Linked DNA regions of Homo sapiens. The protein of the gene in region 2 interacts with the protein of the main gene of each other region in a pairwise test. Each region holds a gene or a part of one and is shown on either strand. Other genes may lie near its edges. The genes, in order: RBM3, IGF2BP2 and HSCB.

Evidence for each region.
Region 1: the proteins of IGF2BP2 (region 2) and RBM3 interact in binary tests that used the Homo sapiens proteins (3 or more experiments, as listed by UniProt).
Region 3: the proteins of IGF2BP2 (region 2) and HSCB interact in a two-hybrid assay, tested with the Homo sapiens proteins (one large-scale study listed by IntAct).

What each region holds. Positions count from the first base shown.
Region 1 is NC_000023.11:48,578,894-48,581,708, reverse strand, and holds the end of RBM3 (RNA-binding protein 3), read right to left. Parts: 3' UTR 547-2,815; downstream 1-546. UniProt on the Homo sapiens protein: Cold-inducible mRNA binding protein that enhances global protein synthesis at both physiological and mild hypothermic temperatures. Reduces the relative abundance of microRNAs, when overexpressed.
Region 2 is NC_000003.12:185,814,922-185,818,660, forward strand, and holds part of IGF2BP2 (insulin-like growth factor 2 mRNA-binding protein 2), read right to left. Parts: intron 1-3,739.
Region 3 is NC_000022.11:28,752,039-28,755,024, reverse strand, and holds part of HSCB (iron-sulfur cluster co-chaperone protein HscB isoform 1 precursor), read right to left. Parts: intron 1-2,986.

The DNA.
Region 1 (2,815 bases), on a different chromosome or scaffold from region 2:
GGAGTTGCCTTCATCTTGAGCACACTCTTTCCCTATGGTATGTAAGCCGTGGGTTGAAGAGCAACAGCATGGTTATCTTGCTGCCACCCAAGGCCATGCTTATTTTTGAGACAGTTGTGCTCTGTCGCTCAGGCTGGAGTGCAGTGGCACGATCTGGGCTCACTGCAATCTCCACCTCCCGGGTTCAAGCCATTCTTGTGCCTCAGCCTCCCAAGAAGCTGGGATTACTTGGTGTGCGCCACTACACTCGATTAATTTTTGTATTTAGTAGAGACGGGGTTTCATCATGTTGGCCAGGCTGGTCTCAAACTCCTGACATCAGGTGATCCACCCACCTCGGCTTCCCAAAGTGTTGGGATGACAGGTGTGAGCCACTGCGCCCGTCCCCACGTCATGCTTCTAAGTCCCCCCAGTAAAGAACCCTTTACTAACAATTTTTGTCTGCCTTGTTTCTTGGCTCCTTCGGCATTTGGAGGTTTGCATACAAGGCTCTTTCATGGGAACAATGAGTAAATGGATATATGCATTAAAAAAACGAATATACTCTTTCACAGCATATTAGAAATGTTTATTAAGAATAATGGCATGAACTGCTTTTAACAATTTAGAAAAGACCCATTCCCCCCGCCCCCCCCCGCCCCCAGATCCAGGGCACTTCCTCTAAGTAAATACAAATATTTCTGTAGTGAACTGTATGCATATTCCCACTGAGTAAAGGTTATAAGAAGCCTCAGGTCAGGTCTTACCACCAAACTTGAAAACACTTGGAATGCAGCTGGGCAGGGACTTGAGCAGGTTTTGTCTTGATAAGCAGGTAAGAATGGCAGAACACTGGCTTATTGTCAACCAATGTTTTTTTATATACCTGAAGTATTCACAGCAACTTATTTTAAGAAGCTTTTTAAAAGTTCTACACCTCCACCCCCACAACTCCCCAATCCAGAACATGGAACAAGGGTGTGGAGCTGTTTGATGGACTTGGTCTGTTCTTAACATTTAATACTCTTAACTCCTAGGCCAGGTGTGGTGGCTCACGCCTGTAATCCCAGCACTTTGGGAGGCCGAGGCGGGTGGATCACTTGAGGTCAGGAGTTCAGGACCAGCCTGCCCAACACGGTGAAACCCTGTCTCTATTAATACAAAAATTAGCCGGGCGTGGTGGCAGGCACCTGTAATCCCAGCTACTTGGGAGGCTGAGGCATGAGAACTGCTTGAACCTGGGAGGCGGAGGGTACAGTGAGCCGAGATTGTGCCACTGCACTCCAGCCTGGGAGACAGAGTGAGACCCTGTCTGGAAAAAAACCAACAAAAAAACACTCCTAACCCCTGTGTGAGGTGGGTATTATTATTTCCATTTTATGGATGTTATAACTGAGGCAGAGAAGAAATTAAACTAGGAAGCAAGGATCTGAAGTGATTTCTGCCTAGGTGGGATAGGAGGGGTTGGGCTTAGGACTTGAAAGCCTAATTGAAAACCAAAAGCCAATCTCTTAATTTATTCTGGCCCTTGACAAGAGATTTGGTGAATGGTTCAGAAAGATTTTTGGTACAGACAAGTTCCAGGGCTTGAAAGTGAAAAGTAGTTACAGGCCATGTGTTTGGTCTTTGCAGGTCTTGGGATACATGTTCTCAAGGTACCTTGAGTGTTTGGGGGGTTTCTAGCCTCAGTGGGTTCTTGACAAATGTGCATCAGTTGGATGCTGAAGACAAACCAAAGTAGGAGACCAACAAGCACTTTAAGGGTGGTCGGGGGTTGACCTCAAATCTGGAACTTTATTCATCACAGACTATGGCACTATAGAGAACTGTGGGCTCTCTTCCTTAGAGCAGATAGACAGCCAGAGACTGGGACTCCCTGGGCTGGATGATCACAAAGCACATTGTAAACACAGCAGAGCAGAGCAGGTTTAGAGTTGTTATACAAATAAATTTTGGTCTTCATTGATTCCACTTAGGAACATTTTGTTGCAGGAATATTACTGATTATGGATCCTACCTCAGCTGACACTGGGGGTGAGAGGTACATTGCCATCCTGAGAGACAGGGAGCAGAGGACCCCCTCCAATCCCCCGACCTACAAGGCATTCACAGCAGTCCTCCTGCCAATTCTCACTGCCTTAGCTCCCTAAAGGCCCAGAATAAGATGCGTCCTCAGACCAAGTATCCACCTGGTGGGGTTAGCCACAATGCCCCATAGCCTGGGCCTGGCTTAGTGGGTGAGGTGGAAGTTCCCAAGTCTCCATCCACCTGCCAAAGCAAATTCATGACTGTTTGGGTTACAGGAAGAAGGGATATTGGGGCCTGTCCCAACTAGCTGGGAAACTCAGGAGGCAGGCCTCCAGGACTGGAACTAATAATACAGGGTTCCACAACGCACCAGCAAGGGAATAGGCAGCTCAGGACAATAATGTCCTGGAGTTTGCAACCTGGTGGTAACTTAGCTCAGTATTAGCCAGGTGAAAGCCATGAATACAACAGATTTTTCTGTTCCAAACTAGAACCAATGGAGGGATAACACCCATGGGGCCTCAATACAGCCACTAGAAAGAACCATGACTAAAGGGAGCAGAACTGAGGAACTAAGACCAGCTAGAATTACAAAATTACCACTTTACCACCCAAGACACACACACACCAAAAAAGATCAAATCCCCGTGACTGAGAGCTTTGCCAACTCTTCTCAGTGGCTTTATATGCCAATTAACCTAACCCTCCACAGAAAATGTAAAATGGCATAAGGCTGAAATTAAATGACTCACCTGAGGTCAAATACCTGGGAAGTAGAAGAGCCCCTACATAAATCCTGGAATCTGAG
Region 2 (3,739 bases):
TTCCATTATTTTCCTTCTCTAAGACACAGATATTTTTAAAAATACATATAAAAATGAAAGCATGCCAATCTTTGTGCAACATTCTGTATCCTAAACAAAAAAACCTCAAGTTTTTTTTCAGGATTTGAAAAAATATATATATCTGGGTCAAAGGCATGGAACAGGCCCTCCTCCCACACTGCATACATGTATGTTTTTTACACTTAACTGTCAACCACAATGATTTTTAAAAAAACCTCTTTCTCTTTATATAATTATAAATGCTTCTACTATAGGACTACTTCAAGGAAGTTCTTTCAAATTATGACTAACACTTTTAATTCTTTTCAATTATATTAAATTAAAAATATACTGAACTTGAGTTCCTAATCTTTCTCAGCATAGGTTTTATATATGGAAATTTTCTCTTATTCTAAGTTAGGAATAATATACAAAGTTACTTTATAGCCTGTATACATATTATCACAACTTTCTACTTCATTGCTAAGGTTCTGTTGCAGTATTCAAATGAGATGGACAACAAGCCACTGCCTTCTGAAGTTCTGGTCAGGAGCAAGGAGTTATTTTAGAGTCTGAAGCTTTAGAGCCCTTTGTGTAAGAAGGATAAAGACGGATCTCTTCAGGCTGTGGGGAGGATAAAACAGGAAGCCTAGTCCAGTGCCTAGCACGTAGCAGCCACCCAGTATTAGTTAACTCTCTTCCTCTCCCCCATCTCCTGAGTCAGAATTCCACGGAAAATGCCATATCCCACTCTGGACTGTACTAACTCAAAGAAATGCATGGGGAGTTGGAAATAACCTTCTTTCACCTATTTTTTTTTCCTTGATAATTCCTCTCTCCCTCCCACCAGCACCATAAACAGTCCATAAGAGTTAAAGGAAACGAAGATAAATGCAGGAAAAGTTTACAGTTGAGGGGAAATGAACTGTACTTCACATGCTTCATTATTTAGCATATTTTTTTGTGCGATTATAAAATTAATAAAGAACTCAGAACTTTATGGATACTATCCCTATTAACACTCACCCCATAGTCAAGACAGTATGAGAGGCCCAAGGCCTTATTCAGTACAGAAAGTGACGTAGAGAAAGATACCACCTCTGGGAAAGACCTGGCAGTTCCTACCAGGGAAACACGTAAACCACAACACAGCCCTGACCTTTGCAACAGGCTGTCTGAACCCCGTGAAGAACCCACCCAGGAGATTCCTTGAGCTAGACTTTCATTCACCACATGGCACATAGTCTTGACCCGGGTGACAGTTCGCTGTCTAATCTGTGTGGCTCAGATGTTGAAAGAAATGTTTGTCTTGTTATGTCAGGAACACAACTGCCGAAAAAAGCAACATAACAACAACAACAACCCCACAACCTGCTTAGGTATATTCCCCACTTCTGTCTGTGGGCAAGCACAGAGATGGGAAGACGTGCAATGCTACCTTTAAAATTACCTCTATTTCTAACTATTTTTTTCTAAAAACTATAGCAAAGTACAGATCACTCAGACTGATGTAGCATCATTGCAAAGGTTCAATTCACAAATGTATTTTCATATATTTCTACCACCCTCGAACAGCATTCTTCGAACTTTACAACACATTCAGCTGACTTCTTTAATGTAAAACGTTAAATGGGGAGGAAGTACAGTGGAGCGAGACTCAGGGACCTCAAAAGACCTGGGTTCTAGCCCTACTACTTAATTAACAGTCATGTGGCCTAAACAAATTATTAAGCTTGTCTGGGGCTGAGTTTCCTCATCCAAAAAAAGAGATAGTATCAATTGTCCTATTTTTCACAAAATTATTATTTGGAATAAATGAAATAATGTGTCAAAGAGGCTGGAACAGCATCAGTACTGTATGAATATTAAGATGCAGGCAAAAAATACTCCTCCCTGAGATAATACTACTACCATTGTTTAAATATCAATACATGAAATCATCAACCTTTCTGATCACATTTAAAACAAAAATTTAAAAATTCAAGCTTCCCACTACAGCAAATCCTTACTTTGAGACACATTAATTACATGACAATAAGAAAAACTGAAAATATAATTCTTATTGCAATGTTCCCATACAAATTTTTCTGGTCATTAGATGCAACATTTATTTTGATATGGGTAAATAAGAGAAAGCTCAAAACATACATCAGAACTCTTAATTTTCATTTATCAGACTTATTAAAATATCTGCTTTATTTATGAAATGTCCTTGACACTAAACAGAATGGGAAAATCCTATCTGAATGTTCACATTTTAAGAAATAAAGTGTAGAACAGATAAATAATGAGGAATAAACAAAATGTATCTCAAAAATACAGATATTATTTAGTGAAAAGCAGAGGCTTGGGGAGGAGACATAACTATCAAATGATGGAACAGGGCTAGCTTTTGGGCTTGAATGCCTCCTATTAATGCAAAAGCATCCATTTTCACTGTTGTACTTATTCTATCTCAATATACCATCAAACTCTAAACCAAATTAAAGAAATAATTATTGTATTCCTTCTTCCCTTTGGCAGCCAAGCAACAGAATCTGAAGTTTTCTACAAAAGAAAATAATTTTTCTTCACTATTTTATGGAGAGACCAGACTAAAGTCCATGATCAAAACAGGAAAAGTAAAACCTTAAAAATAATGCTCTGAGCACTCTGCAATTTTGCTGCCTAAAATAGAACCCATAGAGTCCATGCCACCAAATGAAAATTATAAGTTTGTAAGCATGAAGTCAAATTATAAAGTAAAAGATTTAAAATGTTTTAATGGTGATGATAAATGGGAGGAAAGACTTATCTTCATTGGTAGGTGTTTGCTGTTTATTTGCTATTATTTGTTCAATGATACTGCTTTTGAATGAATACCCAAAATAATTTGAACATGAATTTGAATATAAGAAGGATAAAACTTTACTAATAAATTCTGGGGGCATGTTTTGTTAAACAGAACACTCCCATCTCTCAATTTAAGAAGTTAATCATAGCTTTTGAGAGATAATGCTTTTGACTGAAAGTTTTAGAGCATGAACTCTTTAAAAATTAGCTTAGCCAAGCCCACTAATTTCTAACACTGAAAAGAACACTGAAGACTTTTGTGATGTTTAAATATAATTTTTAAAAATATATTTTGAAATGTATAATTCAACATTTTTAAGTCTCCAAAGAAACTATTTCAATATAACGCTTCTTCTAATGAAGTTTACTCACTGAGAGCACTTGTGTTATGCAAAATACCATATTGCTTTTCAAAGTATAGAATTTCTAAATGGAAGTGCATATTCAAATCTTGAATTTTCTGACACTTAAAAAAATGGCTTATAACATCATCAAAGCCTTCACAGAATCTTTTGTGACAGGGGATAGCCAAGTGAAAAGGAAGGAGGGAAGATGCTGCACTGATGGTCCTTTCAGTAGCATGCTCACTGTAAAACCTACTCCAGGTACCTGTGACTTGGCTTTCACAAGGTTAACCACCTACAAGAGTTATTCATCACTCAAGGCAAATATCACTGCACTGGATTCCCTTTGCCACAGGTTTCAATCACCAAGCAACTTTCTTGAGCCTTGTCAAGACTGAATTCCAGAGCAACTGTTGTTCAATTAAAGATCTCCTGCTGCCTCTTCATACCATCTACCTGAAACTGTCCCCAACAAAAAACATATACACACACTTGCACATACACCACTGAAACAGAGAGAGGAAACATTTAGCTCAAATAATATCCTCTAACAATTCTGACCA
Region 3 (2,986 bases), on a different chromosome or scaffold from region 2:
CAGGAGTTCAAGACCAGCCTGGCCAACATGGTGAAATCCCATCTCTACTAAAAATACAAAAATTAGCCGGGTGTGGTGGCAGGCTCCTGTAATCACAGCTACTTGGGAGGCTGAGGCAGGAGAATCACTTGAAACCGAAAGGCTGAGGTTGCAGTGAGCTGAGATCATGCCACAGTACTCTAGCCTGGGCGAAAGAGCAAAACTCAGTCTCAAAAAAAAAAAAAATTAAGTTGGTAACACATGACATAAAATTCATCATGTTAGCCATTTCTAAGTGTACAGTTCAATGACATTAAGTACATTCACATTGTTGGGCAAGCATCACCACCATCCATCCACATAACTTTTTTTTTTTGAGATAGAGTCTTGCTTTGTTGCCCAGGCTGGAATGCAGTGGCATGATCTTGGCTCACTGCAGCCTCCACCTCCCGGGTTCAAGTGATTCTTGTGCCTCAGACTCCCAAGTAGCTGGGATTACAGGCATGCATCATCACACCTGGCTAATTTTTGTATTTGCAGTAAAGACGGGGTTTCACCATGTTGGTCAGGCTGGTCTCAAATTCCTGCCCTGAGATGATCTGTCTGCCTCAGTCTCTCAAAGTGCTGGGATTACAGGTGGGAGCCACCGTGCCTGACCTTCCACAGAACTCTTTTCATCTTGCAAAACTGAAGCTCTCTACTTATGAAATAACTCTCTATTTTCCTCTTCCTGACTCTATCCCCCCACAACCACCATTCCACTTTCTCTATGAATCTGACTACCACAGGTACCTCATATAAGTGGAATTATATAGTATTTGTCCTTTTGTGACTGACATTTCACATAGTACAATGTCCTCAAGGTTCATCCATGTTGGAGCCTGTGTCAGATTTTTTTTTGTTTGTTTGTTTTTGAGATGGAGTTTCGCTCTTGTTGCCGTCAGGAGTGCAGTGACACGATCTCGGCTCACTGCAAACTCCACCTTCCAATTTCAAGCGATACTCCTGCCTCAGCCTCCTGAGTAGCTGGGATTACAGGCATCTGCCACCACACCCAGCTAATTTTTCAGAGACGGGGTTTCACCATGTTGGCCAGGCTGGTCTAGAACTCTTGACCTTGTGATCTGCCGACCTTGGCCTCCCAAACTGCTAGGATTACAGGCGTGAGCCACCGCGCCCGGTCCTGTGTCAGAATTTCTTTTTTTTTTGAGATGGAGTCTCCCTGTGTCACCCAGGCCGAAGTGCAGTGAGGTGGTCTCCACTCACTGCAAGCTCCACCTCCCAGGTTCACGCCATTCTCCTGCCTCAGCCTCCTGAGTAGCTGGGACTACAGGTGCCCGCCACCACGCCTGGCTGATTTTTTGTATATTTAGTAGAGACGGGGTTTCACCGTGTTAGCTAGGATGGTCTCGATCTCCTCACCTCATGACCCACCCGCCTCAGCCTCCCAAAGTGCTGGGATTACAGGCGTGAGCCACCGTGCCCGGCTGGTGTCAGAATTTCTATCCTTTTTTTTTGAGTTGGAGTTTTTCTCTTGTCGCCCAGGCTGGAGTGCAATGGTGCGATCTCAGCTCACTGCAACATCTGTCTCCCGGGTTCAAGCGATCTTCCTGCCTCAGCCTCCTGAGTAGCTGGGATTACAGGCGCCCGCCACCATGCCACCCTAATTTTTTTGTATTTTTAGTAGAGATGGGGTTTTACCATGTTGGCCAGGCAGGTCTCGAACTCCGGACCTCAAATGATCCGCCCGCCTCAGCCTCCCAAAGTGCTGGGATTACAGATGTGAGCCACCACGCCCGGTCTAATGTTGCTTTTATTATTTTGAAAACACTTTGTTAGATCAATTTAAAAAATAAGTTTTAATTTTGCATTTACTTATTCCTTTCTCCAATGGTCTTCCTTTCGTTATGTAGACCCAAGTTTCCGACCTATATAAATTTCCTCCACTCTAAATAATTTTTTTTTTTGAGATGGCATCTCATTCTGTCACCCAGGTTGGAGTGCATTGGCGTGATCTCGGCTCACTGCAACCTCCGACTTCCGGGATCAAGCCATTCTCCTGCCTCAGCCTTCGGAGTAGCTGGGATTACAGGCGAGCGCCACCATGCCTGGCTACTTTTTGTATTTTTAGTAGAGACGGGGTTCCACCATGTTTGTCAGGCTGGTCTCGAACTCCTGACCTTGTGATCCGCCCACCTTGGCCTCTCAAAATGTGGGGATTACAGGCGTGAGCCACCACGCCTAGCCAATCAATTCTTTTAACATTTTTTTTACGTGGCAGGTCTCCTGTCAACAAATTTTTTTTTTTTTTTGAGATGGAGTCTCGCTCTGTTGCACAGGCTGGAGTGCAGTGGCGCGATCTCTGCTCACTGCAAGCTCCGCCTCCCGGGTTCACGCCATTCTCCTGCCTCAGCCTCCCGAGTAGCTGGGACTACAGACGGTCACCACCAGGCCTGGCTAATTTTTTGTATTTTTAGTAGAGACAGGGTTTCACTGTGTTAGCCAGGATATTCTCAATCTCCTGACCTTGTGATCCGCCAGCCTCAGCCTCTCAAAGTGCTGGGGTTACAGGCATCATTAACCATGCCCGGCCCAATTTTTTTTTTTTTTTTTTTTGAGACAAAGTCTTGCTCTGTCACCAGGCTGGAGTGCAGTGGCGTGATCTTGGCTTACTGCAGCCTCCGCCTCCCAGGTTCAAACGATTCTCCTGCCTCAGCCTCCCTAGTAGCTGGGATTACAGGCGCGCCACTGCGCCTGGCTAATTTTGTATTTTTAGTAGAGATGGGGTTTCACCATGTTGGCCAGGATGGTCTTGATCTCTTGATCCACCCGCCTCGGCCTCCCAAAGTGTTGGGATTACAAGTGTGAGCCACCGCGCCCAGCCCAAATTCCTTCAATTTTTATTTGCCTGAGAATAGCTTCATTCCTCCTTCAGGTTTTTTTTTTGTTTGTTTTGAGAGGGAGTCTCGCTTTGTTGCCCAGGCTGGAGTGCAGTGGCGTGATCTTG